Linked DNA regions of Homo sapiens: region 1 is linked to region 2. The links come from fine-mapping of genetic effects on gene expression. A gene starts in region 2. The other region holds a variant in brackets. All regions are shown on one strand. Distances are between the middles of the regions.

Evidence for each region.
Region 1: its variant is fine-mapped to the expression of MINAR1 in blood mononuclear cells (TOPMed, PIP 0.91).

The regions. Positions count from the first base shown.
Region 1 is chr15:79,356,940-79,359,847 of GRCh38, reverse strand. It overlaps a transcript of TMED3 not described here. Among named protein-coding and RNA genes, the nearest start is that of TMED3, 47 kb to the right of the region's middle. The variant C/T (reference allele first, on the strand shown) is at 1,673.
Region 2 is chr15:79,431,148-79,434,055 of GRCh38, reverse strand. It overlaps MINAR1 (membrane integral NOTCH2 associated receptor 1), which reads right to left and starts at 1,720. Exons shown (of 4, transcript NM_015206.3): 1 at 1,516-1,720.

The DNA.
Region 1 (2,908 bases), 74 kb after region 2:
GCTACTACCTAGGGCTTTCGCTATTCCAGGCATGTATAATAATAAGGGCTTTACTTGTATTTACTCACTTATTCCTTTTGCTTGGTGTGATCAGCTGATTGTTAACTTTTTGATACTATACGTGCTTTCTCTCCATTTTCTGAGACCTTGATCTCTCAATCTCTTCAGCTGTCAGAAACAACTCCCAAATTCTATACCATTTATTTGTGGAGCTGTTTATTCCTCTTTTTTTCCCCTTACCCTTAAAAAGGTCATGCCCTGGACAGGGAGACTCACCTCTCAGCTGATTTTTCTATATAAGGAGCCTTCCCCTTCAAATTGGCCGGGTATAGTGGCTCATGCCTGTAATCCCAGCACTTTGGGAGGCTGAGGTGGGCAGATCACTTGAGGTCAGGAGTTCGAGACTTGGTCAAAATGGTGAAACCCTGTCTCTACTAAAAATACAAAAATTTGCCAGGCATGGTGTGGGTGCCTGTAATCCCAGCTACTTGGGAGGCTGAGGCAGGAGAATGGCTTGAACCTGGGAGGCGGAGGTTGCAGTGAGCTGAGATTGCGCCACTGCACTCCAGCCTGGGCAATAGAGCAAGACTCCGTCTCAAAAAAAAAAAAAAAAAAAACTGAGCCTTCTCCTTCAAATAAACTGTACCTCTCCTCTGGTATGCAAATAAGCACACAGTCCACTTTTGTTTTGAGTTGCAATTTTGTTCCTTCCAGCTACATAAGCCTCCTCACTTCCCTTGTCTTCCCCCGTGGGCAGAATCCAATTTGTCTGAGTGCCTCTCCTGGGATGGCCAGAGCTGTACTCCTGATAGATGAGGTGCTGCTGCACTCTCTCTTGTTCCAGCCACTGCACTCCCAGTAGATGCAGGTTTGGCATGCAAAAAGCCCCTTCCCATCCCCACTCCCTTTCTTAGTTATCCTCAGACTGATCCAGACTGGAGGAATCAGGAACCCTGTCCAGGCCACGGCTCTCCTGTCCCTGCTATCCACCACCCACTTATCTGAGAAGTTCACAGCAAACTTTTCCTTCAAGGAGCAAATAGGCCCAGCCATTTCACCCCAGGGAAAGCTGCATGGAAGCTGCCTGCTTTCTATGAAATTTCGTTTTAAGCATCAGGCAAATAAGAAAATGTTGGGGTCTTAGAAAGTATTTTTTCTTTGCTGAATATCCACTGATGGAAATACTGTTAACTGGAAGGCAGTGGTCAGAGGTCCTAGGGTGGACCCGTGATCTCCTTCGGGATGGGCCTGAGGGATGCTTCTGTTAACCTCCTAATCTTGAAGTTGGATCCTACAGATGGCTGTCACAAGAGACAGACTCCACCCCCACCATCCCCAGCTTCCATCCCAGCCAGGTACCAGTCACTCTCAACCTGCTCAGTCTAGACTGCAATCCACAGCCAAACATAATTTTCTTCTGTCAGCAGCATCCCTGAACCATTTGCCTAGACACACACAGTAGGGTTGTTGTCTGAAACCTCAGAAATAAAAAGTGAGCCATTTAAAGTTTTATGCTTTGAAGTGGCAAAATGATGTCACACTTGAAGGTGCTGGCCTCAAGTCCTGACCTTGCAGCTGTCTGCTTCTCCTGGCTGTTCACAGGGTTGTGAGACAGCAGGCCCCCAGAAAATTCCTCGGACACAGCCTCCTCCCAGCCTGGCTCTGCTCACTG[C/T]GCTATCCAGTGCCTTGGGCCTCTGATGGAAGACAACGAGTAGGACTGACCTCCATACTCTGGTCTTCCCCTCATGACATAAACAGGCATGCTTCAGTGGCCCATCCCGTTAGGGTCAACTTGCTGATTGCTGATTTATCTGATAAATGAACGTATGCTCACAGAGAAGCCGAGACGGGTACATTAATAGTGTGTTACATCTCCCAAGAAGGATGTTGATACAGAATTTTCAAACAGAGCAATTGGAGACTTAGACTCACAAGACCAAAGAATCCTAGGGTATGATGGCATGCAGGGACTTAAACAATGGTATAAACCAATGCATTAACTTCCCAGATGGGAAAGCTGAGGCTCAGAAAAGGGAAGTGAGTTTTTCAGTCCTTTGCAACTACTAAGAAGTACAGCCATGCTTCCTGATTTCCCAGCCAGTGTTCTTCCAACTGCCTTTGCAATCAACTGAAATCAGAGTGGACTCAATACACAGAGCGGAGGGCCGCCAGCTCCCTCTACAGTGGCCCAGACTCCAAATGCCCCCAGCACGGCAGTCCTCCCAGTAGGAGATGAGCCTACATTCACAGACAATAGGACCCCAAGGAGAAGGAGGTATAACACTAGTTCAAGAAGACGTGTTCTGCTTTAAAAAAAAAAAAAGTTTAAATTCTAAAATTAATAATGTAATAATGTGCTTGCTTTTTTTTTTTTTTTTTTTTTGAGGCAGGGTGGAGTGCAGTGGCACAATCACAGTTCACTGCAGCCTCAACCTCCCAGGCTTAAGCAATCCTACTGCCTCAGCGTCTCAAGTAGCTAGGACCACAGGCATGCACTGCCATGCTTGGCAATTTTTTTTTTTTCTGTAGAAATGGGAGTCTCACTATGTGGCCCAGGCTGGTCTTGAATTCCTGGGATCAAGCGATCCTCCCACCTCAGTTTCCCAAAATGCCAGGATTATACACACGAGCCACCATGCCCAGCCGTGTGCTTGTTTTTTTAAAATATGAAAGAGTATAACATAGAAAATGGATCCTCTTCTCCAGAAGTATTAGCTATTAAGCTGGTGTATCTTTTCAAATGCTCATACACATATAAACATATGCATATTTGTATATGTTTATATGTTTGTTCATAACTGTGTTTATGTGTATATTCTTTTTATTTTAAATGGGTTCATACTACACATTCTGTTTTTCAGTTTGCTTTCCCTTGTTTCCCGGAATAGATCAAGCACACTTGTCTATG
Region 2 (2,908 bases):
TTAAGGTTTTTCCCTCCAGGCTCCAGTAGCCTGAGAAAATCTCTAAGTTTGCCCTCTCTGCAGACTCACCACCGTCTCCTGCTCTACCCTCCTCTGATACACAAGAGGAAAACCCATTAAAGGGTATTGTACAACTCCAGGCATCCTACTCTCTCTAATCCACTTCTCTTATTTCAACAATACCCAAAATATTGCCGCCGGGCTCTCAATGAGGGTCAATTCAAAAGACATCCTGTGGCCACAGCAGTGAGCTAGCTTCCACCTGCAGGGCGGGCCCAGTAATGCTGGTGTCTGAGAAATGACAAGGAAGGGCCATTTACCGTCCCTCTCCATCAGAGAGAGGTAGCAGTGGCAGCTCGTTTGCTGGAATAAAGGATGCATAACTGGCCACATAAGCTGCTTCCACACTCCTCCTAGCAACTCTTCATGCCATGCATAATATCACAGAGCATAAAATTGCAGAGCCCAGCAATGAGGCCTCCAACCACAGCCTCAGGGATGGCGGCATGGTTCTACCACCTCCCAACCACATGGCTCCATCCACAAGAGAAATGGGTGAGAAGCCTTTAAGATAGATGTACATTGTTTATAGCAGAAACTCTGGATTTTTCCTCTCCTTAGATCTTCACCAAACATAACTTAATTCCCGCTGAATTAAGCGCACCTGAACACAACCTTATCTTCCCTGCTGCTTAACACAGGCTACCAGCCGCTTACCACAGTAACAATCTTCCAGCAAAACAATGCTGGAGTGCGCGCTGTGAGAGTTAGGCTACTCAAATGTTACGCTCCCCGCACCGCCGGCGAGGGGACAAATGACTACTCTGATGGATTCGGTAGCCCAAGGAAATTATCGCTTTCGGAGGGATGGCGGCAGAGCAGGTCGGGCATGCTGCATTTGCCTGAGTTGGACCGCGTGTGAGCGAGCTTACGCTCCCCGCGGGCCAGGCCCAGCTCCCGTGCTTTCTGACAGGTGAAGTTGAGCATCCTTATCAAACCCTCGGGAAGAACAACGATCCCATTCCACATCAACGTGACTGGAAATCTCAATTTAAGAATTGGATGCACCGGTCGGTCCACCTGGGGCTTGTCCAGCTTTCCATCTTACTTCGCGCCTCTGATGTGTCAGGCTTTTTGCACAGATAGCTCACATATTTAACCCTCAAAACACCGTTTCCTGAAGCGATGCTCAACCAGGAAAACTTGCCCCAAACTGCATGATCATCTTCCGTGGCTTCTCTTCCCGAATCCCTGCTCTGTCCACCAGGTGCGGCCCCGCCCCGCATCCGCACACACCTTTTCCGCCGCTGCCCTGAGCGCAGCGACAAGGGCCCCCACACCTCCGCGGCCCGCAATGCTCCGGGGCCAAGCCGAGGCAGGGAGGCGCTCCCGCAGCTCCTGACTTTACAACCCGCGCGCGTGTGCACCGAGCCGCGGGCACACCGCGAACACACACACACACACACACACTCGTGCGCTCCCGCCCTCCGCCCGGCCCGGGCTCTCCGAACTTACCTCCGAGGCGCCCCGGGCGCAGGGCCCGCCCTTCTCTGCGGGTCTCCAGCGGCTGTTCGGCAGTGGTCCGCACGGCCTCCGATGCCGCGCCTCCGGTAGGCTCCAGAGTCAGCTGGTCACTGTCACCCGGCAGCCCGGATTCCGCGCCCAGGGTTGCACCCCGCGGATGGAGCGACTTTCGCCTCCGCCGCCCGAGTCCAGGTCTGCGCTCACACGCGCGGCGCTCACACGCGCGGCGCCCACCTGGCTGCAGTCCCGGCCAGGGCCAGCGCGCCGCGGCTGAAGGGGGCGCTCGGACTCCTCTGGGGCGGCGCGCAGCCGGGACAGTCTCGCATGACGCCCGCGCTCCAGCGGCCCCGGGACGCGGCCTCACCCTCAACCCCTGGCGGTCTCAGCCTCGGTCTTTGTGTCTCGGTCGGCGTCGCCACGTCATGGGCTTGCAGGCTGGGAGCAGCGCGGGCCGGGAACGCGGCTGGGGAGAGCTGGGCTGGGCTTCTCCACCGCCGCCCGCCCGGGGCGCTCAAGCTGGCGGGGCGCACGGGCAGCAACTGAGCGCACCCTGGGGGACCGAGGGGGCGGTCCCGGGGAGGGGCGCGGCGTCGCGCCAAGGGGGTGCCCTGCCAGAGGCTGCGGCGGAGGAAAGTGGGAGTCAGAGCGCCGCCGGAGCCCCGGGAAGGCGGTGTCCGTTCGGTCCCAGGTCGCGGCTGCAGCGCCGAGGGGAAAGCGAGCGGAAGCTGCGCGCTGGAGGGAGCCCACCACCCGGAGCCACCCGCGGGGTTCGCGTCTCCCCACTCCCCTATGCTGAAGGTGACTGCGGCCCCCAGTGGCAAGCAGGGGCGAAGAGTGTCCTCGGCTCTCCTCTTCCCAGGGAGCACTCGGGGCTTCGGACTCTGCAGTGGTTTGCAAGGCCAGGGCCAAGTGGTCACTTCACTCACTGATTTCTTCTTTTGGCTGGTGTCGGCTTAATTGGGATCCAGATTGGAAAGACTGTCACGTGACCACCCCTCCCTGTTTCTCTCCCCCCCCACACACACACACATACTCACTCATTCACACACCCCCAAACCCCACGAAACTGGGATGGGTTTCCAAAAGCTTACTGGATACATGGATCAGAAATGGAGGCCTTCCGTGTCACCCTGTGTGCTGGAGTGGAGCCGAAACACAGCAGCTGCCTCTGGTGGCCCCATCTAGACAGATCCTGTCCCTGTGGCTGGGGAAGCTCACGTTAACAGCACTTTGCATCCCCAAGACAAGAACAACACAAACAAAAAGGGTGAGGGAGGGAATCATAGTTTCGGGGCCATGGAATCTCATTTCAAAAGGAAAGCAACACCCCCACCCCCACCACCCCACCTCCTTCCCTGCCACCGAGTTACCGAACAGAGCTGCT